Homo sapiens: one gene and its partners. The protein of the gene in region 1 purifies or fractionates together with the protein of each later gene. This does not show direct contact. Each region holds a gene or a part of one and is shown in the gene's direction. Other genes may lie near its edges. The genes, in order: RC3H1, CNOT10, CNOT9, LARP1, RBMX, CNOT2 and IGF2BP1.

Region 1 (3,500 bases):
CACAGTTAAACTTTGAAGCATCTTCTGTGTTGACAGATTCCTTTTTTTGCCTGTGAACTTACCCTATTATCATTATTTGTATCCTGTCAGATATCTACTTGTAAGACCAAGAAAGTATTTGTTCATGTGAATCACAAAAGAAACACTTAAATTTTTGTTTTTAGCATATCTGAATGCTATAAAATATAAAAACTCATACTGTTTACATAGGACAGATTTATCATACTGCTGTAATTGTTTTCATGGTTAATTTGTTACATAGGCAATTACTAAATTGTGCCTTTGAAATACTTTATAAATTTTTTTAAATAATTAAAGATATTCAATGATGTTAAAGTTGGGTCAGCTAATATTTGAAGTTCTTAATTTATAATTTTTTTTCTTTAAGCCATAGATAATTTAGAATTCTGCAGTATTTTTCATCTCCAGATCTTAGGGCTTGAAATGGATTCTGATGGGTCTAATCAGTCCACTCTTGCATATATCTTGAAAATGGTCAGCATCCAACAAAGTGAAGAATAAACTGATAAATGATCCCTGTTTGGTGAACACCTCAGATCAGGATGTTCCTTGGCAGGGTATTCTGACCTGGTTTAGCTTTGGCCCCGTCTGTGCTCAGGGTTCAGGTATTCTGCAGGATTGGGTTCAGAGGGATTAAAATTCTCAGATTGGCCTGTATCAAAACAGTCACAGATTTTGGTCAGCCTTTTCCCAGAACCGTCTCCAAGATTTTTTCTTTTGTGTAATTCTGGAATCTAGGCTGGATTTGGACTAGCTTTAGAGGTTATGATAAAAGATTAATTTTGTCAGGCATTTATACAAAGGAGGTTTTCTTACTACAGAGTTTCTTAAGGTAGATTCCTTCTATTTTTGAAGTGTGACATTTACCAATCTGAAGTAATGTTGCCCTACATCCCCCAGACACTTAACTTTAGCATATTTATTTCTGTCCATTTTTGGTCAGGATTGTGCCTGTTTACTTATATAATATTCTTGTTTACTTTTTGTTTATTAGATACTTCTTATTAGTTTATATTGTTTTCCTGATTGAGGCTTGGGGAAAGAATTTTCCTCAAATTTAAAGTCACCTTACTTATTTGCAGATGTATGTCAGAGCAATATTCTTTTGACAGTTATCAAGCATTTTAGCAATGCTGTATGTATATATTATGAATGAATGACAGAGTCACTCATGGTCTGTCACCCAGGCTGGAGTGCAGTGGCATTATCATAGCTCACTTCAGCCTCAAACTCCTTGGTTTAAGTGTTATTCCCGCCTTACCTGGCTACTTTTTTTAATTTTTATTATTTTTATAGAGATAGCATTTTGCTGTGTTGCCCAGGGTGGTCTCAAACTCCTGGGAGCAAGGTGATCCTCCCACTTCTGCCTCCCAAAGTGCTGAGATTACAGGCATAACAATGTTTTAAACTGACACTGGTATACCTTCACTGATTATTACTGTGCACATGTGGTAATAATTTAACTTATAAGTGCATTTTATCTAAAAAATTTCCAAGATCTAAATAGCATTTGAACATGGTAGCAGTTTTTTTTTTTTTTTTTTTTTTTTTTTGAGCAAGAAAAGAGTTCTAAAGGGGTCAGTTTTATCTACAGATTAACATAATTTTTTTTATTGAGGTTAAGTCACATAACATTAACCATTTTAAAGTAAACAGTTTAGGTGGCACTTTATACATTCACAATGTTGTTCAACCACCAGCTCTAATTCCAGAATGTGTTCATTACCCCAAAAGGAAACACTGTACCCATTAAGCAGTTACTCTGTATTCCCCTCTTCCCTAATCCCTAGCAAACGCCATTCTGCTTTCTGTCTCTAATTTGAGCCAACATCGAGGAAGAGTACTCTGTACAATTGAAATTGCAGAAAAAACTTTGGGATGTGATTGTTAGGAATAAAAAACCACCTAATTCTTTGCATGCTTCTCTAAGTACAGTAGACATGCTGCCAGGGACTCTTTATGGAAGAAAAGTTGAGACTCATAGAAGTTTGCAGTTTTGTTTTGATCACCCCAGAGGGTTTTGCTCAAACTCTTAGACTCATTTGTATTTCTTCATTGGGTTATAAGAACTAAAATTTAATGTTCTATACAAATGTGAACAACTAATACTTGGTCTCCTATCTAGAACTTGTTTGCCTTTTAGGTTTTCTTAATGTATAGAAGAAACTAGGAATATTCACAAAGGATTTATTTGAAGTTACACTGGGAAACGATTTTTAGAATTTGAAGCTCTTTGATCCCTGTGAATCTAACTTTATGACTATTTTATTCAGCTAATCTTTGAGAATATTTAGAGTTTTGATTTGCGTGGCACTCTGCTTTTAATCCCTTGTTGAATAAGTGTTAGAAACCTTGATCTTGGCCCTATACCTGATCACCTCTAAAAACATGAACAGTGTTACAAAGGCAGTTGTTTAGTAAGCTTTTTTGGATTGTTTTAATTGGCTGACTGAGGGAGACAAAATTAGTTTTTTTTTTTCTTTCTAGAATAAAGGGTAATAAACTTGGACTTTAGAGTTACTGCTAAGATTGACATTTCCATTTGGGGCTTTAGAAATATATTGTTATCTTAAATTCAAAATGGTACTTTATCTAATTGAATTGAAATCTTAAAATTTATGAGAAACAAAAGTCACTTTATGTTCTTAGTAAATATTTCTAATGGGGTTATAGGAGATCTAAGTACAAAAAAAATTTAAAATTTTGTTATTAATCTCCCCTCCTTAAGGAAAATTTTATTAATATACATAATTATAATTTAGTTATAAGAACAACTTAAGTTGAGTACAGTGGCTCAAGCCTGTAATCCTAGCACTTTAGGAGGCCAAGGCAGGAGGATCTCATGAAGCCAGGAGTTCCAGACCAGCCTGGGCAATAGAGTGAAACCCCACCTCAAAAAAAAAAAAAAAAAAAAGGAAACTTAAAAAATGATAAGGAAAAGGATTATGTCAGAATATTTAGAACTCTGCAGTAAAATTTCTGGTTTTCTGTAATTTTTTTCAGGAAAATGTCAACTTTTTGTAAATACATGTTTCTGTGTTTTTATATATGCCTCATTAATTTTTTAGACTAACATTTAGTGGAAAGCTAATGTACTCAATTAATACATTTAAATTATAAAAATAACTTTTTTTTTGAGACGGAGTCTTGCTCTGTCACCCAGGCTGGAGTGCAATGGCATGATCTCGGCTCACTACAACCTCTGCCTCCTGGGTTCAAGCAATTCTTGTGTCTCAGCCTCCCAAGTAGCTGGGATCACAGACTCATGCCACCATGCCCGGCCAAATTTTGTATTTTCAGTAGAGATGGGATTTCACCACGTTAGCCAGGCTGGTCTTGAACTCCTGATCTCAGGTGATCTACCTGCCACGGCCTTCCAGAGTGCTGGGATTACAGACATGAGCCACTGCACCCGGCCGAACTTTTATCTTGAAGTAGATAGTGTCAACAAATACAAAAATAAAAATAATGTCTTTAAA
Region 2 (3,500 bases), on another chromosome or scaffold:
CGCACCTGTAGTCCCAGCTACTCGGGAGGCTGAAGCAGGAGAATCGCTTGAATCCGGGAGGCGGAGGTTGCAGTGAGCCAAGATTGTGCCACTGTACTCCAGCCTGGGCAACAGAGCGAGACTCCGTCTCAAAAAAAAAAAAAGATGTTTAAATTTCAAATCAGCAGAATAAAAAGCAACTTGGGGCCGGGCACAGTGGCTCACATCTGTAATCCCACACTCTGGGAGGCTGAGACAGGCAGATCACTTGAGTCCAGGGGTTTGAGACCAGCCTGGGCAACATAATGAGACCCTGTCTCTACTAAAAATACCAAAAATTAGCCAGGCATGGTGGTGCATTCCTGTAGTCCCAGATACTTAGGAGACAGAGGTAGGAGGATTACCTGAGCCTGGGAGGTTGAGGCTGTAGTCAGCCAAGATCATGCCACTGCACTCCAGCCTGGGCAACTGGAGTGAGACCCTGTCCCCCCAAAAAAAAAAGACAAAAGAAGTAAGTTGACAGTTTTAATTATTAAAATTCCAAAAGATGGAAAACTGTCTAAAAGATCACTTATATAAATAATAGTGCATCTGTACAGTTGAAGACAATGCAGCTATAAACTCTAGGTACTAAAATGGAAAGATGTCCAAGACATACTAAATGAAAACAGCAAGGTGTGAAACAGTTTCTGTATAACCCTGTATACATGCATAAAAGATCTCTGAAAGGACACACCAAGAAACTGCAAACATTAGTTGTTGGGGTGGCAGGACGAATACTACATGGCTGGAGCAGTAGAATGGGAGACTTTTCACTGTATACTGTTATGCTTTTAATTTTTTTTTTTTTTTTTTTGAGACGGAGTTTCGCTCTTGTTGCCCAGACTGGAGTGCAATGGCGCAATCTCGGCTCACTGCAACCTCCGCCTCCCGGGTTCAAACACTTCTCCTGCGTCAGCCTCCCAAGTAGCTGGGATTACAGGCATGTACCACCACGCCCGGCTAATTTTGTATTTTTAATAGAGACGGGGTTTCTCCATGTTGAGGCTGGTCTCGAACTCCTGGCCTCAGGTGATCCACCCGCCTCAGCCTCCCAAAGTGCTGGGATTACAGGTGTGAGCCACCGTGCCCAGGTGCTTTTAAATTTTGAATTGTGTAAATCTTTTTTCAAAATGTGAATTATAGGCCAGGCACGGTGGCTCATGCCTGTAATCCCAGCACTTTGGGAGGCCGAGGTGGGCGGATCATGAGGTCAGGAGATCAAGACCATCCTGGCTAACACGGTGAAACCCTGTCTCTACTAAAAATACAAAAAAATTAGCCAGGCGTGGTGGCATGTGCCTGTAGTCCCAGCTACTCGGGCGGCTGAGGCAGGAGAATGGCATGAACCCGGGAGGTGGAGCTTGCAGTGAGCCAAGATCGCGCCACTGCACTCCAGCCCGGGCAACAGAGCGGGACTCTGTCTCAAAAAAAAAAAAAAAAAGTGAATTATAAATCCACCTTTCAGAAAGCCAATACTAGAGAAACTCCATACACACTAAAGAAAGCTACTGGCAATATATAACTAAAATAAACCTCTGAATTCTACCACTGAAATGGTGCATCATGAAGCTTCAAGGAAGATTTTGATTGGATCTCTTTAGTAGGTCACCTGCCAATCCCTGGACCAATCATGGGCATTGAGCCATACCTGTAGTAGGGGACTGGGTACCACCATTGGCAGCCCCAGAGGAATCTCACAAAATTAGAAATAGTTCCTCAAAAGGACATTCATCCAGCAGATATCTGTTGAGCACTTACTTCTGAGCTAAGCCATGGGAATAAGACTGCACATAAGCAGACATACTACAATCTTGCCCTTGCTTGTAGACCTTTGCAGTTAGGAGACACCTTCCTAAAAAGGGAATTGCATGGTCAGAGGATATGCAGGATTTTAAGACTTCTGATATAGAAAGTTTGTATCAAATGGTACATTCTCCAGCAGCAGATGAGAAGGCCCACATCCCCACATGCTTGCCACAGCAACTAAAGTTGATATTAAACCTCTTCTCAGGAGATAGGGTGGCTTTCAGCCGGGCGCAGTGGCTCACACCTGTAATCCCAACACTTTGGGAGGCCGAGGCAGGCAGATCACCTGAGGTCAGGAGTTCGAGACCAGCCTTACCAACATGGAGAAATCCTATCTCTACTAAAAATGCAAAAAGTAGCTGGGCGTGGTAGCACATGCCTGTAACCCCAGATACTCGGGAGGCTGAGGCAGGATAATTGCTTGAACGCAGGAGGTGGAGGTTGTGGTGAGCCGAGATCGCGCCATTGCACTACAGCCTGGGCAACAAGAGCGAAACTCTGTCTCAAAAAAAAAAAAAAAAAAGCCTATGTGGCTTTCACATAGGTTCCTGCTTATGTGAGCAGCCTTGTTGTGCCTAGAAGTGATGATGCTTTACCATGTGAAAAATAACTACAAATTCTATTTAGTCAACTTAGTGGCATCTGGTCAGCATTTCTGATCCCAGATCAGAAAAGTTAAGTGACAGGCTGTCCAGGGTAACATGTTTGATATTATCTAGGCATTGAGTGTATGAGTTAAACCAGTAAGAGTTAAAATGTTTCACTCTTCTCAGTAACAAGGCTAGGGTGTTGAGCAGCCCCTCTCAAAGTGCCCCCAGACCTCAGTCACTGCAGCAAACAGAGCTTTTGATCTAAAGTTACAGTGTGTACAGTCCAGCTGAGGTTCTCGTACAGCAGGTGGCCATGGCTGCTGCCACGCTGGGAGAGACAGATGGGGTCAGGCCTGGTTTGGGGTCTGAAGGGGGTTTTGTTTTGGTCCCTTGGTTTTTAGGTTAATCCAATGGCTGGACCTTTGTTAATTGGGAGGCCCACCCTGCCTGGGAGGGAAGAACAGTGATGTGAAGAGTTGGAAAGGGCTCCGAGTAGATGTTTCCAAGGTTGCCTGCCCACCACTAACCATTCTGAACAGCCAGTAAGCAAAATGCCATTAAGTATCATAAAGATGTTGCCTTGAATTCTTGTATTTTAAAAAAAGCTTCAGACTGTGGTCATTGAAAAAAACAGTAAATAAAATGTGTTACTAGCCACTTGGATGGAAAACAGAGATTTTACTATCCACAAAATGGGCCGGGCACAGTGGCTCACATCTGTAATCCCAGCACTTTGGGAGGCCAAGGCGGGTGGATCATCTGAGGTGAGGAGTTCAAGACTAGCCTGGACAACATGATGAAACCCCGTCTATACTAAAAATACAAGAAATTAGCTGGGCGTGGTGGCAGGAGCCTGTAATCCCAGCTACTTGGGAGGCTGAGGCAGAAGAATCGCTTGAACCCAGGAGGCGGAGGTTGCAGTGAGCCTAGATCGTGCAATTGCACTCCAGCCTGGGCAACAAGAGCAAAACTCCGTCTCAAAAAAAAAAAATCCACAAAATGGTATAAAGACGATCTTGCCTATACAGCTTGCCTAGAAAGCTAGGCTTAGATATATAAAATCTCATTTTCTGAAAAGAGTTG
Region 3 (3,500 bases), on another chromosome or scaffold:
ACAAACATATTTGATGACTATAGAGAATTATAAAATATTCAAATTTGGGGGGAATATTGTGATTCTTTAGCATAATAATGAAAGCATGCCCTATTAAGTATGTATTTCCTACATGAGTAAGTAATGAATGGTTCTCAAAGGGATGTAGTTAGAGAATATACTGAAGAATCATTAAGAGGGAGAGCTTTTCCAAATTACAGGTTTTCTGCTCAGTTGAGGGGGGATGTCAGAATCACTGGGGAGGGACCAGTATTGGGAAGGCATAATTTTTTTTCCTCTCAAAAACTATTATATGCATATGGTTTTTTAAAAAAAGTTTATGCAAAAGGTTTTAGTGTAAACAATGAAAAGTAAGTCTCCCTGTAAATCCCCAACCTTAGAGGTAACTACAGTTAACAGTTCTTTATGTGTCCTTCTAGAAATGTTATATGTAAATGTGTAAGAATGTATATGTATTTTTTATTTTTATATGTGTGTATATTAATGGAAACATTTTATATGCTCTTCTGTAACCCTTTTATTGTTTTTACTTAGTATCAATATACAGTATATAGAGAGCTGCTTCTTTTTTTAAAGGACTACATAGTATCACATTATAAAGCTGCACCAATATTTAACCAGTCTCTTAGTGAGAGATACTTGTTTGTTTTCTGCATTTTTGTTTTTGAGACGGAGTCTCACACTGTCACCCAGGCTGGAGTGCAGTGGCGCGATCTCGGCTCACTGCAACCTCCGCCTCCTGGGTTCACACCATTCTCCTGCCTCAGCCTCCAGAGTAGCTGGGACTACAGGCGCCTGCCACCACGCCCAGCTAATTTTTTGTATTTTTAGTAGAGACACCAGTTTCACCGTGTTAGCCAGGATGGTCTCAATCTCCTGACTTCATGATCCACCTGCCTTGGCCTCCCAAAGTGCTGGGATTACAGGCATGAGCCACCACGCCTGGCCCAGTTTTCTGCATTTATTTATTTATTTATTTATTTGTTTGTTTGTTTATTGAGACAGAGTCTCACTCTGTCGCCCAAGCTGGAGTGCAATGGTGCAATCTCAGCTCACTATAACTTCCACCTCCCATGCTCAAGCGATTCTAGTGCCTCAGCCTCCTGAGTAGCTGGGACTACAGGCATGCACCACCACACCTGGCTTTTTTTTTTTTTTTTTGCTCTGTCGCCCAGGCTGGAGTGCAGTGGCGCTATCTCGGGTCACTGCAACCTCCACCTCCCAAGTTCAAGCAATTCTCCTGTCTCAGCCTCCTGAGTAGCTGGGATTACAGGCGCCCATCACCACACCCAGCTAAATTTTGTATTTTTAGTAGAGACGGGGTTTCGCCATGTTGGCCAGGCTGGTCTCAAACTCCTGACCTCAAGTGACCCACCCAACATGGCCTCCCACAGCGCTGGGATTACAGGGGTGTGCCACCGCGCCCGGCCACTTTTCTGCTTTTAAAACAGTGCAACAGTAAACATCCTGGTATGTCTTTAGCACAGCCCAATTATACCTACAGGATAAATTCCTAAACATGGAATTATCAAAGGGTATGTGTGCATTTTAGATTTTCATCAGTAACTACCAAAGAGATTGAATAGTTGACATCAAATGTATGTATTTAGAAACGCTCCCCTGGTATTCATGAAAAATATATTTCCTCTAAAACTCTGTTGCAGGGTAAGACTTGGTTTGACTCTAATAAACTGATATTTACTTTCTTGTCTTCATCTGAAGCCTGTGCCTACTACACTGGCACAAGTGGATAGAGAAAAGATCTATCAGTGGATCAATGAGCTGTCCAGTCCTGAGACTAGGGAAAATGCTTTGCTGGAGCTAAGTAAGAAGCGAGAATCTGTTCCTGACCTTGCACCCATGCTGTGGCATTCATTTGGTACTATTGCAGCACTTTTACAGGTGGGTTCATGTCCATGATTGGCAGTTCAGTTCTTTTCATTACACTTGTATATTTCTTTACCTTTGCCCAAATGATTTGAAGACTTTAGGAGGATGATTCTTTAAAAAACTGCATTTGTAAGAATCTGTTTTAGAAAGGTCTGAGGTATTTGTTAAAATGCAGATTCTTGGATCCTTACCCAAGAGATTCAATTTAGTCAGTCTGAGGTGGGCCCTATAATCTATATTTTAATAAGCACTTTCACCTCCCCCAGGTGATTGTGATGCAAGTGATCTAAGAACTACGCTTTGACGAACACCGCTTTAGGAGTACTGTAAGATAAATCTACATGACAGGGGGAGGAAGGTGGAAAGTAGAGTATAAGGACCACAAGGTACAATATATTCTATGGAAAAGAAATGGGTTTTTGGGTTTTTTTGTTTGTTTTTCTTTTTTTTTTTTTTTTGAGACGGAATCTCGCTCTGTCGCCCAGACTAGAGTGCAATGGTGCAATCCCGGCTCACTGCAACCTCTGCCTCCCGGGTTGAAGTGGTTCTCCTGCCTCAGCCTCCTGAGTAGCTGGGATTATAGGCCTGCATCACCATGCCTGGCTTTTTTTTTTTTAATTTTTAGTAGATACGGAGTTTCACCATGTTGGTCAGGCTGATCTTGAACTCCTGACCTCGTGATCCACCCACCTTGGCCTCCCAAAATGTTGAGATTACAGGCATGAGCCACCATGCCTGGCCTGGAAAGGAAATGTTGAAGGTATAACAGCTGTAGTATTAAAGGTGGGTACACTTGTACATTAAAGAATAGATAACTGAAGTTCAGTTCAAACCAGAATGGTCACTGGTGGCTAATTAACTGATATGGTACAATAACAATACCAAAATACCTAGGTAGTGGCATGATCATCCATTAAAGTATTGCCCCAAATTCCTAACAATTAGATTAACTTTTCAACTCTTAAGTAAATTCACATTCCATCTCTATTGCATTTAGCCAAGAAACTGATCTTTGTTATGGGAACGTTTTTCTATGTAAAAGTTTTACAAATAATGTAAATGGAAAATTGTAGCCAGGTGCAGTGGGTCATGCTTGTAATCCCAGCAGTTTGGCAGACTGAGTTAGGAGGATTGCTTGAGCCCAGGAGTTTGAGACCAACCTGGGCAACATGGCGAAACACCATTTCTACAAAAAATACAAAAATTAGCCAGGCTTGGTGGTACACTCCTGTAATCCCAGCTACTTGGGAAGCTGAAGTAGGAGGATCAATTGAGCCCAGGAGGTGGAGGCTGCAGTGAGCCATGATCATGCCACTGCACTCTGCCTGGATGACAGAGTGAGACCCTGTCTCAAAAAAAAAGAAAAAAAATGTAAATGGAATTGTATTGAGTAAATCATTACTTTTTGACAGATAGTGCATATATTCACTGCTGTTTATACATATCCCCACCCATTGATTCATGTCCTTACCATGTTACTACCTAACCAAATTCAAACTTCTTTATGAGTCACCGTGGTTGACTTAACACTTTCTGGCCAGTGATCTCATCACTGTAACTTAAAGCAGGATGCTAGCAAAATTATAAAAATTTGAGTATCCCTCAACTGA
Region 4 (3,500 bases), on another chromosome or scaffold:
CGTTTTTGGTGTCTTTTCCCTGAGTATGTCCCCACTATCATGTATGTAAGCCCCTTAGGTCCTCAGAAGAAGGAAGGGAGAGGGAGCAGATGCATGGCCCAAATATGGAGTTAGTCTACACAAGTCTGCTGCACTAATGGCAAGGTGACCTTGGGAAGCCTGTTCATACCTCAAGGCTTCAGTTTCTCCATCTGCAGATGAAAGGAAGGAGACATTAGAATATTCTAGAAATAGTTTATATATATAAACAGATGAAGTTCACTGTTAAAGAAGTATTGCAATCTCTAACTAAAATTACTACTTCCTTTTTAAGTGCTGAATTTTTCTCCACATACCTGCTCACTGTCACCCACTTTGGAGACCTCTGGCCTGGGGCTTGTGAGGAGACTGCAGAATTGACCTTGAACTTTGGGTCTATGGAATTCTATACTCCCTTATCTATTTTCCCACAGTGATTACCTCTCATCTCCTTTCTCTTGCCTGCCTGTTCATACACAGAATTCCCCACAGTTGTGGCTTCAGCCCTCAAAAAGTGTTGGAGATCCAGCCAGAGACATGAGGAGAAAGGTAGTAAGTAGATGAGGGTTTTACAAAGTCCAGGCCTACAAAGTTTTGTTTGAAACAGGGGTCAGACTTAGCTCCCATTCCAGAATTAGAGCCCCTACTCTGACCTGGTCTATCTTAAACCTTAAAAAAAGATAGGTTTAGAGTTTATGTGCTCTTGGCACAGCAGGGAATCTACTTTTGAATAAATACTGTGGGTTTAGACAAATGCTTCTCTCTCAGCGTCTCATATTCAGTCTATCAAAACAAATAGTTTTTCTTTGCTGAAGGCACCGTGTTTTCTCTTGCCTTTGGAACAATGGTATTCTTTCTGCCTAGTCTGTCCCTATCTTCATCTGGCTTACTTATGTTCATCCTGTGGTAGTCACTTCTTGAAGGAGGCCTTCCGTAACCATTCTTAGTCACAGTTGACTAAGCTCCTTTAACTGTGTGCATCCACAAACCTGCTTATAGCCTTTACCATACCACAATGCAGTTGGCTGTTTGGTTGACTTTCTCCCATTGAGCTCCCTAAGTAACAGGGACCTTGTCTTATTCTGCTTTTAGGTTTTTCATACAGAGCTTAGGACTAATGGGTACTCCCTCATTTATTATATAATTGAACATCTGGTATTACCAGATCCCCGTCTAGGTACTGAGTATATAATGGAAAGCAAGGCAGCTGTGGATCATGGAGCTTCCAGTTTATTGGGAGATGTTGAATAGATGGATAAGTGGATGAATCAACCTGCTGAACTTCTGTGTGTCCACTCCTAAGCTAGGTGCTATGTAGGATATAAAGGTAAATGAGAGCACAGTTCCTGCCTATAGAGAAGTCATCATCAGTTGTTTGTGCATGACTGTGATATGAGCTGTGAGTGGAGGAACCTGGACTTCTATGAAACATCCTTTCTCATAGTCATAAAGCTGACTCCCAGGATGACGCTTGTGACCTGCTGGTGTTACCAGGGTCATAGTTGAACAGTCTTATGTTGAGAGGCTGGAGCTTCCCTCTCATGGTATAGCTACAGAATCTGGGCCAAGGATCTCTGGTGATTCCTTTTCCCCTTCGTCTGTCCTATTTTAGAAGTCAGAGGAGTCCAGATTTTCCCACCTGACCTCTCTGCCTCAGCAGCTGCCTTCCCAGCAGCTGATGTCCAAGGATCAGGATGAGCAAGAGGAACTGGATTTTCTGTTTGACGAGGAGATGGAGCAGATGGATGGGCGGAAGAACACCTTCACTGCCTGGTCTGATGAGGAATCTGACTATGAGATTGATGACAGGGATGTCAACAAGATCCTCATTGTCACCCAGACACCACATTACATGCGCCGGCACCCAGGGGGGGACCGCACAGGCAACCACACCTCGCGTGCCAAGATGAGCGCCGAACTGGCCAAGGTCATTAATGATGGCCTCTTCTACTATGAGCAGGACCTGTGGGCTGAAAAGTTTGAACCTGAGTATTCCCAGATCAAGGTGAGGCTTGGACATAGCAGTGAGTGTGGAGCCTGGTGTGCCTGTATTGTACGGAGAAGAGGAAGCCTGATTAGCTGTGCAATTTTAGGCAGGTCCTTATAATTCAGAGTCTCAGGATTTTTATATATGGGAAGGGGATGATGACTGACATCTAGCTTGGGCATTAGGAGTGAGGGGTGATGTGTAAACACTGCAAACTCTTCAGGTGAGGCGGTGGTGATTATTATCCTATCTGCGGATCCATAGTTAATATTCTGACAGTTGGCTAGACACTTTTGTGGGGAACAGAAAAAGGGTTAGATTGTTATTTCTAGTCTTAAATATTTAGGCATCTAAAAATTTAGAAGCCTTTTAAGAAGCTTGTGTTGAGTATGGAAAATGGAGAAAAGATAAGTCTTTTGAAAAATTGCTGCTGCCTGGAAATAGTCAAAACATCTCTGTTGTGGGATTTTAGAGTGGGTATGTTTGGTGGTAGGTTGTCCTAGGGTGAGCCTTTGTAATAAGTAGCAGTGTGTTTCCTGGAAGTAAGGAGGAAGGAGAGTTGCCCAGCCACTGTGTGATAAGGCAGTAGCAGAAAGAGAGATGGGGAAACACTGGAGCTTTCAGGGGGGAGTGTGTAGTGAGTTCCTGAGGAGCTACTGTCAGCCTGATCTCAGTCTTACTACAGGGAGGGCAGGGCAAGCACTGTCTTCTTCTGGGCTAGCACACTTGTGCCAAGGTAACTGGGGTGAGGAATGGTGACTGGGCAGCTGAGAGCCTGGGGACCAGAATTCCACGTATGTCGACGTGGGAGCTGCCCTCTCCAACTTCCTGCCAGTCTTGATTCCTTAAACAGGCTAGAGCAGCCTGCTTACTTACATCTTTCCCCACTCATCTCATGACCTCTGCAGCAAGAAGTCGAGAACTTCAAAAAGGTCAATATGATCAGCCGGGAGCAGTTTGACACACTGACCCCTGAGCCCCCTGTGGATCCCAACCAGGAAGTTCCTCCTGGGCCACCTCGGTTCCAGCAAGGTGAGAAGCAGACACCTGAGATCCTGACATGGGTGAGAGGATCTAGGGCCCTTGGACTGGGGGCTATCCTGGGGTGGATGCCACAGGCCTTTCCCTGCTTCCTGACTCCTCTCTCTGCCTCTGCAGTTCCTACGGATGCCCTGGCCAACAAGTTGTTTGGTGCTCCTGAGCCCTCCACCATCGCCCGCTCTCTACCAACCACTGTCCCAGAGTCACCAAACTACCGCAACACCAGGACCCCTCGCACTCCCCGGACACCACAGCTCAAAGACTCAAGCCAGACATCACGGTTTTACCCAGTGGTGAAAGAAGGACGGACACTGGATGCCAAGGTGAGGCATTCCTGTCGGGCTGCTCAGAGTCTTGGGTCTACTTCATTGCATTCCAGTGCTTTGCTTCTCTCCCTTGCCTTGTCTGAGCTAAGGAAGTGCTAAATCCTTCACCTGCTCTGTGTTCTGAGGCT
Region 5 (2,382 bases), on another chromosome or scaffold:
GGACAGTGTTACTTCTTGTCCAAGTAGTTCACTCTGTAGGAAAGGCATTTAAAAATTGATAGGCCAGGGTGTTGGACATGAAAATGAAATCATTTTTATTTTTTAAAGTTAGCTGGGCGTGGTGGCAGGTGCCTGTAATCCCAGCTACTACGGAGGCTGAGGCAGAAGAATCACTTGAACTTGGGAGGCAGAGGTTGCAGTGAGTTGAGATCGTGCCACTGTACTCCAGCCTGGGGGAACAGCGAGACTCCCTCTCAAAAAAAAAAAAAAAAAGTTTTTTAAGACTACCTTCAGTTCTTATTTCCCCAGTTTCTATGACTGCAGTGCATGCTCCATCAAGTACAAGTGAAACTAGACTACCCAAATCAATAATGGTTTTTTTTTGGGGGGGGGGGGGTAGAGTTTAGCACTTGTTGCCCAGGCTGAAGTGCAGTGGCACGATCTTGGCTCACCACAACCTCTGCCTTCCAGGTTCAGGCGATTGTCCTGCCTCAGCCTCCCAAGTAGCTGGGATTACGGGCATGCACCACCACACCTGGATTTTTGTATTTTTAGTAGAGACAGGATTTTACCGTGTTAGACTGGTCTTGAACTCCTGACCTCAGGTGATCCGCCCGCCTTGGCCTCCCAAAGTGCTGGGATTACAGGCGTGAGCCATTGTGCCCGGCCCAATAATGGTCATATTCTTGATGAAGCAAAGAAAACTTTTATAGTGGCCGAGCCTGGTGGCTCACACCTGCAATCCCAGCACTTTGGGAGGCTGAGGCAGGCGGATCACAAGGTCAGGAGTTCGAGACCAGCCTGGCCAGCATGGTGAAATCCTGTCTCTACTTAAAAAAAACCACCAAAAATTAGCTGGGTGTGGTGGCGCACACCTGTAATCCCAGCTACTCGGGAGGCTGAGGCAGGAGAATTGCTTGAACCCAGGAGGCAGAGGTTGCAGTGAGCCGAGATGAAGCCACTGCACTCCAGCCTGGGCGACAGTGAGACTCTCAAAAAAAAAAAAAAACTTTTATATCTTTCTTGATTCTTGTGAGTAGTAATATTTTTCTTTTCTATTTTTGATGCAGATGACGGTGGATATTCCATGAATTTTAACATGAGTTCTTCCAGGGGACCACTCCCAGTAAAAAGAGGACCACCACCAAGAAGTGGGGGTCCTCCTCCTAAGAGATCTGCACCTTCAGGACCAGTTCGCAGTAGCAGTGGAATGGGAGGAAGAGGTAAATGTTCCATGTATGATGATTTATGCTACTACCGTAACACAAAGAATTGAGAGGTGAATGATGCTTAAAATTTTAATTGGCCAGGCGTGGTGGCTCACGCCCGTAATCCTAGCACTTTGGGAGGCCGCGGCAGACGGATCACGGTGTCAAGAGATCAAGACCATCCTGGCCAATGTGGTGAAACCCCGTCTCTACTAAAAAATACAAAAATTAGCTGAGTGTAGGGCGGGTTCCTGTAATCCCCGCTACTTGGGAGGCCGAGGCAGGAGAATTGTTTGAACCTGGGAGGCAGAGGTTGCAGGGAACCGAGATCATGCCACTGTCCTCCAGCGTGGCAACAGAGTGAGATTCTGTCTCCAAAAAAAAAAAAAAAACAAAAAAAAAAAACTTTATTCATGGAGTCTGGGTGCGGTGGCTCACGCCTGTAATCTTGACACTTTGGGAGGCTGAGGTGGGCAGATCATGAGGCCCGGAGTTCGAGGCCAGTCTGGCCAACGTGGTGAAACCCTGTCTCTACTAAAGATACAAAAGTTAGCTGGGCGTGGTGGTGGGCACCTGTAATCCCAGCTACTCGGGAGGCTGAGGCAGGAGAATCACTTGAACCCAGAAGGCAGAGGTTGCAGTGAGCCAAGATTGCGCGACTGCACTCCAGCCTGGGTGACAGAGCGAGACTCCCATCTCAAAAAAAAAAAACAAAACTTTTAGTCATGTGTTCTAGGTGATTAGATAAATGGAATTAGCACTGAAAAAAATTTAAAATATGAATGGGAAATTGTAGAAAATAAAATTAGGTGATCTAGCCTCCGTAATGTCATCTTTGAAGTCAGTCTCATTATTTTTCATAGCCTGAATGTAAGTTCACGTTTTAACTTTTTTCTCTGGCTATGTTTAAAAAAATGATATTTTTCCTTAAGCTCCTGTATCACGTGGAAGAGATAGTTATGGAGGTCCACCTCGAAGGGAACCGCTGCCCTCTCGTAGAGATGTTTATTTGTCCCCAAGAGATGATGGGTATTCTACTAAAGACAGGTAATAGAAAAGTGCAGCTTTTTAAATTAATAATTAAGGTTGAAGGAAAGCTTATCAAAAGCATAAACCAAAACTTTTGCTTTGTAGCTATTCAAGCAGAGATTACCCAAGTTCTCGTGATACTAGA
Region 6 (3,500 bases), on another chromosome or scaffold:
TCGCCCAGGCTGGAGTGCAGTGATGCAATCTCGGGTCATTACAACCTCCACCTCCCAGGTCCAAGCGATTCTCCTGAGTAGCTGGGATTGCAGGCATGTGCCACCATGCCCAGCTAATTTTTGTATTTTTAGTAGAGACGGGATTTCACCATGTTGGCCAGGCTGGTCTCTTAACTCCTCACTTTTCAAGTGGTCTGCCCACCTTGGCCTTCCAGAGTATTGGAATTATAGGTGTGAGCCACCGCGCTTGACCAGAAACCCCAAATCTTCACAGGCCTGCAAGGTCTTACATGATTATTGTTTGTCCCCTAACCCCACCTCAACAGCTTTTCCCTTTGTTCACTGTATTCCAGCTTCACTGGCCACCTTGTTATATCTCAGGCATGTCAGTCATGTCCCTGCCTTAGTTGCTCTAGGAGTTCCCTCAGACTAGAAGAGTCTTCTGCCAGATAATTAATATGACTATGTCCCTTATAGCCTTCAAATCTTCAGATCTGACCACCTTAATGAAACCTAACTGACCACCCTATTTAATAATTATGCATCCAGTCTCCCCTCCCAGTTCCCCTCTAACATGGGCCATTGTTTATTTATTTATTCTGTTAATTGATTTTGTCTGTCCCCCTCCAATCCACCATCCTCAACCAGAAAGTAAGTTTCATGTTGTCAGTGATCTTGTTTTGCTCACTGATGTGTCGTAAGCTCCTAGAACAGTGCCAGGCATATAATAGGCACTCAGTAAATATTTGATGAATTTAAACTTTTGCAAATAGTTACTCAGTTTTCTTCTTGCCACACAAATAAATGGGAAATTTATTTAAAATTTATTTAAAATTTAATTTATATTGGGAGCATGGTATTGAAGAATTTAAAGCATCTTGAGTTGAAATCAAGTAAAAGTAGAAAATTTTTAATCATGTTTTGTATATTGTGATATGTTGTGTTATTTATACTGTATTGCAAGAATACTGAGGGAAGGAGTCCTATCATATTTTACAGACACACACACAAACACACACAGTCTTCATTTGCTTCTGTATAAGTCAGTAAACCCAAGTAAGGGAATTAGAAGTAAAGATGGTCATTTTACAGTTGGAGTCTTTGTTTTTCCTGAAATAAAATTAGAAATCTCTTTTTCTGGATTTCAAAATGTTTTCTTTTCCTCCTTATTCAGAAATCTCTACCCCAAATTTGCGTCACCCTGGGCATCTTCACCTTGTCGACCTCAAGACATAGGTAGGAGAATCTATTTGTGTTTAGACCTTTTAAAAAGAAATTTACAATTGAGAATCAGTTAATAAGGCTTTTTTCATTTTATTATCCAGACTTCCATGTTCCATCTGAGTACTTAACGAACATTCACATTAGGGATAAGGTGAGTGTAGTTTATTATTCTACTCAGTCAGCATGAATTTATCTATTTTTCACATGTTTTTCAGTTCAGGCAGCATACTATTTTTGAAATAATTAGTAATGGTCTCAGGGATATGCTTTCATATGTCCATGTTAACTTGTTAAATGGTAAATGTTAGGACTGGTAAAAAATAAAAATTCTTACATTTAACAACAGGTTACAACCATAACCGCAGTTGATGAGAATAAACTAGATTGGAACATTTGATAAATATCCTTCTGATAATCTTATTTTATGACCTTACCAGTAAAAAGATTTTCGTTACAAGTATTACAGATACAGTGTTTTTAATGAGATGGTCTGTATCTTTAAAAACTATTTATGACCTTTGACTTTTCTCTGTATTTTTTCATTTCCATTTTTTTAAATCACCTAAAATTCTAATTCTAAAGTAGTTATTAACAACAGATTACAGCTTAATCTCTCTTTTTTCAATCTAAGAAAGAAAATGGTGGCACTTTTTGCTTTAGAAGAACTGAGAGTTTGTTTCTATTACCAAAAAATATTCACAATGGTACCTAAATTTTAGCCTTGGGAAACTACAATTTAGTGAAAAAATATATTTTTGTTATATATTTGTGTATAAATATCTATGTGTATGTGTATATATACAACAGCATTCTGAGTGTGCCTTACAGTTCTGTGGTCAAGTGGATGTTGATGTGGACAGGCAAGTAAAGGGATACCTTTCTCAATGTCTTCTAATACTTGAGTAGATAAAAGGCAAGAAATACAAGATGGAGAGGTCTCCTATTTTCTATTTGCGGATTGTGTGATTTGCTCCCACCACCACTGTAGAGCTCTTTCGCTCCAATTACCAAAGTGTTCCAGAACCTTTTCTTATTACCAATTTGAGAAATACTAATTTAGGAGAATTTGTCACATTGGGGCTGCTGCCTGAATAGGGATAACATGAATGGAGAGAAAAATTACATTCAGAGAATGTGTAATAACCAAATAAGTATTTCGATATAGGATCAAATAACGAGATAAAAATGTTGTTTTGGGACACTTTTAAGGTTTATTTAAATGTGAAAATTTGAGACTATTGAACCTATGTTTTACAGTTTGGTAAGCAGTTATGTTTCTACCTTGGGGAGAGAAATGTAAAGCAATCATCTTTCAGACATCTATTTAAACAAACTGAAAAGCCATTTCTTTATGATTTTTGTATTCATCATCTGTGATTTGCTGAAAGCATACAACTGACTTGTGAATCATTCACTGTCAGATATAGATTCAGTTTAACATTTTTTATAAGCCGTCTATATATTTGGCACTCTACAAGGTGCTTTCATATACCTTCACTCATTTTATTTACTTTCTTAGTAACCCTCATAGGTGTCATTGTCCACATTTGACAAGTAAAGCTAAGAGATTTTAAATAACTAGGACACAGTCATATTAATGAGTAATAAAACCAGGACTTGAATACAAGTCCTAGATCTCTGAGCACAATGCTATTGTTAGGTTCTTTTCCCCATTGGGTATTAAATCCTTTTAGTGGATCTTGCTTGGAAGTCTTTATTGAGCTTTTCTTCCAGTCAGCATATCAATTAGATGTATCAGAAATAATTGTTTAAATGACTTCAGTCATTTAAATGAGGAAATTCCCTTTTAGAATCTTAACTACCTATCTGTGTAATCATGTAATAACAGTTATCTACTACAAAGTGGGGAGTTTCTGTTTATCTCTCCATTTTTTCTTTAGTAGTAGCAACTATATATTAGGATTTGCAGATTTGTTTTATATTTCAGAATAAGTTATTTTTCTTTTTCAGCTGGCTGCAATAAAACTTGGCCGATATGGTGAAGACCTTCTCTTCTATCTCTATTACATGAATGGAGGAGACGTATTACAACTTTTAGCTGCAGTGGAGCTGTATGTTCAAAGTATTTTAATCACTTTTGTATTATAGTGGATCTTGACTATGCTGAAAACATCTTTAAGTGATGATGGCTATCTTTAAATGGAACTATTTCTCCATCAAGAAATTTATTTTTACATTATTAAAGTGAATTTAATTTAGATTAAAACCGTATCTTAACCATGGCTTCATAATCTATATACCTAAAAAGAATTTCA
Region 7 (4,018 bases), on another chromosome or scaffold:
AGGGACCCAGGCGGATCCGCTTCCCCCTCCCCAGGAACGGCGGGAGGAGGAGGGGAGTGGCCGCCGCCCCCTCCCCTAAGCTCCCGCCCCTCGCTTCCCCGTGCGCGGAGCGGAAATTACCCCCTCCCCCCGCGGGTCTGACCTGGGGACGTGGGCGGGGCTTCCCGCTTAGCCCCCCGCCCTCCGTCCCTCTCCCGCCTTCCCGCCAGGATCGGAATCCTGCACCCCAAACAAAGTTCCGAGACCCGAACCTAGGGCCTAGAGAGCTGCCAGCAGTGTCCCGGGTGGTGCAGGCTCTGGAAACTCCACCTGTCTGTCCCCGACTCTGGGAGGGAAAAGGGGACCATTCAAATCTCCACCCGGTCACTCCCTCCCTAAGACCTCCCCCTTCAGTTCGCTCCGGTTAGCCCTAGCTATCACTCCTCTTCCTTGTCTCCCACCGTTCCTGTCTCCTGGAGTCATCTCCGGCCAGTTCCGCGTGTTCCCCTCAGGACCCCGAAACGTTATCATTTAACAGCCGGACCCCGGGTGCGAACCACCCTTTCTCCCGTGGGGATCTCAAAACATTATTTCCTGCGGCTTCCTCGTTCTCCACTGGGATACCCCGTTCCCAGCTTTCCAGTCCCGCGCTCGCAGGGTCCCCCGGTCCTGCATCCCCGGAGGCGGGGGAGTTTCGTGGGGCTGGCGTGGGGAAGGCGGAGACCCCCCCCATTTAAACATCTAGGGAAAAGGTTCCTTTCTTTTTAAATCACCAGCTCGTGCGACCCTCTCCTGAAGACCCCAGAGTCTTCGGCTTCTCTTTGTCTGTCTCGGCCGTCCCCCGCCTGTCAGTCGCTAGCAGTTAACCGGGGAGGGGTGAGCAACCCCGCCCCCCAAAACGAATGAAAAATAACCGTACATTTTACCCTTTAAGACATGTGAGATCTGGGCTGGACCATCCTCCCCCAGTTTGGGCTGGGGTAGGGGGATGGGTGGGGGCGGGGCGCTTCCCTAGGGGCCAGGTTCTTGCAAAGGGGGAAGGGGCCTGTAGAGCTTCAGGGACGCTGCCGCACCGCCCCAGTTTACCCCGGGGGTGAGTTGAGTTCCCCACCCTCAGGCGGGAGATTATCGGGTTTGGCCGGAGGGCCGAGGGGCCCTGTGGCGTCGGGGGTCTTTCCCTGCAGGGTGGGTGGGGGCTGTCACCACGTGGCTTCTCCTTTTTTTTTTTTTTTTTTTTTCCGCTCCATTTTTTTTCAAGTCGATTTTATTTAGAGGCGGCGCCAGGGCGGCCGCGGAGAAACGTGACACACCAGCCCTCTCGGAGGGGTTTCGGACCGAAGGGAAGAAGCTGCGCCGTGTCGTCCGTCTCCCTGCGCGCCGCGGGCACTTCTCCTGGGCTCTCCCCGAACTCTCCCGCGACCTCTGCGCGCCCTCAGGCCGCCTTCCCCGCCCTGGGCTCGGGACAACTTCTGGGGTGGGGTGCAAAGAAAGTTTGCGGCTCCTGCCGCCGGCCTCTCCGCCTCTTGGCCTAGGAGGCTCGCCGCCCGCGCCCGCTCGTTCGGCCTTGCCCGGGACCGCGTCCTGCCCCGAGACCGCCACCATGAACAAGCTTTACATCGGCAACCTCAACGAGAGCGTGACCCCCGCGGACTTGGAGAAAGTGTTTGCGGAGCACAAGATCTCCTACAGCGGCCAGTTCTTGGTCAAATCCGGCTACGCCTTCGTGGACTGCCCGGACGAGCACTGGGCGATGAAGGCCATCGAAACTTTCTCCGGTAAGAACACAGCCACCTCCCGGAAAAGCCACAACGAGAGCCCCGAACAACGGAGACCCGCACCTTCCGGTTCCTCTCCCGCCAACTCCTCTCTTCCCGGGCCTGCGGGGTTTGGCCTCCGTACCCACCCTCGACCTACCCCCTTCGATGCCCCCTCCCTCGCTCTGCGCCTCCCACCCCCGCGCAGAAACATTCGGGATTTCCTCATCCCTTTCTCCCAGCCTGAGATAAGGAGCTCTGGCTTCCCCCATCCTTCCTCCCCACCGACGGGGCGGGAGCCCCCACTGGCAGTAGTGGGGGGTTGAATTTAGGGACACGGGGATGACCCCTGGCTGGGCGTTATTTCCACGCCCAGCCCCTCCCTATCCGCCGGTGGACGCCCCCCCAGCTGGAAAACCCCGGCTCCCGTTCCTCAGTCTTAGGCCTTTCCAGGCGTGGAAGGGGTACCCGGACCGCCTGCGATCTGTCCGCTTCGCGTGGGGAATGCAGCCCTCCAGCAGGACTTGCAAGGAAGGGGGTCTTGCCTCCCGCCCAGGGCCTGGGGCTTGAGCCATTTTGATTTGAAAGTGGGGCGTGAGCGGGGTGGCGCGGCGGCGGCGGCGCCGGGTCGCCATGCTGCTTCCCGAGACGCCGAGGCTGGGCCGAGAGGCGCGCGCGGTGGCAGTGAGGGACCCTCCCCGCCAGGCCCCGCTCCGCTCCCCCAGGTCCACCCCTTCCCAAACCAGCCCCGACAGGTGACCGCTCCGTGGCCCAAAGCCCGTCTTCCTGGCCAACAGAGAAAAATAAAGTTTCATTCTGCACACTGCCTCCCGCCCCGCGCCCCACTTTCTGAGGAACGGGGAGCCCTTTCTTTCCTGGCTCCTTCCCACATCTGGGAGCTGTGTAGGCAGCGCACCCACACAAATGGCCTCGCACCTTTCCCAAATCGGGATTCCAGAGCGATCCACTCAACAAGCCTCAGTGATTTAATAAAGCAAAAATTAAAAAATGAATAATAACGAATTTACAGACTCCACCATTCCTAGAGCAACCTTTTTCCCATCTGGATGCGGAAGCCACTGCCTGGATTCCTAGGAAGATCTCGAATCCCAGTAACTCCTGAATTATCCTAGTGTCTTTTCCCCTTCCTCTTCCCACCCCCAACCCCTGTTCAAGCTCTCATGGTAATTTTTTTTTTTTAATCTTTAGGGAAAGTAGAATTACAAGGAAAACGCTTAGAGATTGAACATTCGGTGCCCAAAAAACAAAGGTAGGAAAGAGCTCTTTTCGGGGGGGGTGGGGGGGCCGCGGGGGTGTGCTGTGAAGCTGTGTTCAGGGGTCCATAGCGTCTCCAGTGGAAGAAACCCATTACTGGTCTTTCCCACCCCCAACTCCGGATGTTGGGGGCAGGGAGGGAAGATTGGCCAAGATCTTGTAATGGGTGGTTTACAGCTTGTAAAAAAAAAATAAATAAGTTGGGGCTGGGGTAGGCTAAAAGATGTTACTTGCAGAATTAAAGGGGAAAGAAAATCAATAGGGGAGAAACCTTGTGGAGTTTGTTTGTTCAACTCGTGGGGCCGTTTTTTGTGGGGGAACCTTAAAATCTTTGAAGAGTTCAGACTCATGGCGATTTCTGCAACTTCGTAGCAGGCCTCATTTTCTGTTTTTCCCACTCTTTCCACACCATAATTCTTAAGTGGATTGCCCTTCTCCCGAAGCGATGTGGAATGAGTTTCCCGGCCCCCAAAGAATCCCCTTATGCTTGTACTTTATTTATATTTCTACAACAGGCAAAGACTTTTTATTTTCCATGGACCCCCCACCCCCAATCCCTCATATCTCACATCATCCCTCTCCCCAGCTGGATTTTCCAAAGAATATGCCTTGGCTGTACTATCCTTTTCGAGCCCCCCTACCCCCACTCCTTCAGCCCATTGTTACCAGGGGACCATCTGGGGTGAGAGCTTTGTGTTGAGGCTGTGAGCTGGGGCTCTTTGGAGGGTCTAGAACTCCGTGGATGAATGGTGTGTGTGTGTGTGTGTGTGTGTGTGTGTGTGTGTGTGTTCGTGTGTGTTCCAATACCCTCTATCCTCTCTCTTCAGCAAAATGGGGTACCTCCATCATACTTACCGAGAATTCATGGTGGATTTCAAATCTTGCATTGAACTCTGAAACCTTTCCTTGAACTCTGGCTGGGAAGTATAAGGGCAGAGTCTTTCTACTTTCTCAAATCAGACTTTAAACATGTTGACAGTGTAGAGTTTGCTCTCATGTCCCAAGCTGGA

The links.
Region 2: the proteins of RC3H1 (region 1) and CNOT10 purify together in Homo sapiens (affinity purification with mass spectrometry, with the first as the bait; 3 studies listed by BioGRID). This does not show direct contact.
Region 3: the proteins of RC3H1 (region 1) and CNOT9 purify together in Homo sapiens (affinity purification with mass spectrometry, with the first as the bait; 4 studies listed by BioGRID). This does not show direct contact.
Region 4: the proteins of RC3H1 (region 1) and LARP1 purify together in Homo sapiens (affinity purification with mass spectrometry, with the first as the bait; 3 studies listed by BioGRID). This does not show direct contact.
Region 5: the proteins of RC3H1 (region 1) and RBMX purify together in Homo sapiens (affinity purification with mass spectrometry, with the first as the bait; 2 studies listed by BioGRID). This does not show direct contact.
Region 6: the proteins of RC3H1 (region 1) and CNOT2 purify together in Homo sapiens (affinity purification with mass spectrometry, with the first as the bait; 3 studies listed by BioGRID). This does not show direct contact.
Region 7: the proteins of RC3H1 (region 1) and IGF2BP1 purify together in Homo sapiens (affinity purification with mass spectrometry, with the first as the bait; 2 studies listed by BioGRID). This does not show direct contact.

The regions. Positions count from the first base shown.
Region 1 is NC_000001.11:174,015,858-174,019,357, reverse strand, and holds part of RC3H1 (roquin-1), read left to right. Parts: intron 1-3,500. UniProt on the Homo sapiens protein: Post-transcriptional repressor of mRNAs containing a conserved stem loop motif, called constitutive decay element (CDE), which is often located in the 3'-UTR, as in HMGXB3, ICOS, IER3, NFKBID, NFKBIZ, PPP1R10, TNF, TNFRSF4 and in many more mRNAs.
Region 2 is NC_000003.12:32,765,188-32,768,687, forward strand, and holds part of CNOT10 (CCR4-NOT transcription complex subunit 10), read left to right. Parts: intron 1-2,818; exon of another isoform or gene 2,819-2,959; intron 2,960-3,500. UniProt on the Homo sapiens protein: Component of the CCR4-NOT complex which is one of the major cellular mRNA deadenylases and is linked to various cellular processes including bulk mRNA degradation, miRNA-mediated repression, translational repression during translational initiation and general transcription regulation.
Region 3 is NC_000002.12:218,578,839-218,582,338, forward strand, and holds part of CNOT9 (CCR4-NOT transcription complex subunit 9), read left to right. Parts: intron 1-1,722; coding exon 1,723-1,902; intron 1,903-2,171; exon of another isoform or gene 2,172-2,231; coding exon of another isoform or gene 2,232-2,276; intron 2,277-3,500. UniProt on the Homo sapiens protein: Component of the CCR4-NOT complex which is one of the major cellular mRNA deadenylases and is linked to various cellular processes including bulk mRNA degradation, miRNA-mediated repression, translational repression during translational initiation and general transcription regulation.
Region 4 is NC_000005.10:154,800,377-154,803,876, forward strand, and holds part of LARP1 (la-related protein 1), read left to right. Parts: intron 1-1,630; coding exon 1,631-2,023; intron 2,024-2,913; coding exon 2,914-3,037; intron 3,038-3,163; coding exon 3,164-3,369; intron 3,370-3,500. UniProt on the Homo sapiens protein: RNA-binding protein that regulates the translation of specific target mRNA species downstream of the mTORC1 complex, in function of growth signals and nutrient availability.
Region 5 is NC_000023.11:136,875,344-136,877,725, reverse strand, and holds part of RBMX (RNA-binding motif protein, X chromosome), read left to right. Parts: intron 1-1,070; coding exon 1,071-1,223; intron 1,224-2,140; coding exon 2,141-2,255; intron 2,256-2,342; coding exon 2,343-2,382.
Region 6 is NC_000012.12:70,340,933-70,344,432, forward strand, and holds part of CNOT2 (CCR4-NOT transcription complex subunit 2), read left to right. Parts: intron 1-1,174; coding exon 1,175-1,236; intron 1,237-1,325; coding exon 1,326-1,375; intron 1,376-3,178; coding exon of another isoform or gene 3,179-3,195; coding exon 3,196-3,296; intron 3,297-3,500. UniProt on the Homo sapiens protein: Component of the CCR4-NOT complex which is one of the major cellular mRNA deadenylases and is linked to various cellular processes including bulk mRNA degradation, miRNA-mediated repression, translational repression during translational initiation and general transcription regulation.
Region 7 is NC_000017.11:48,996,167-49,000,184, forward strand, and holds the start of IGF2BP1 (insulin-like growth factor 2 mRNA-binding protein 1), read left to right. Parts: upstream 1-1,218; 5' UTR 1,219-1,579; coding exon 1,580-1,754; intron 1,755-2,942; coding exon 2,943-3,003; intron 3,004-3,102; exon of another isoform or gene 3,103-4,018. UniProt on the Homo sapiens protein: RNA-binding factor that recruits target transcripts to cytoplasmic protein-RNA complexes (mRNPs). This transcript 'caging' into mRNPs allows mRNA transport and transient storage.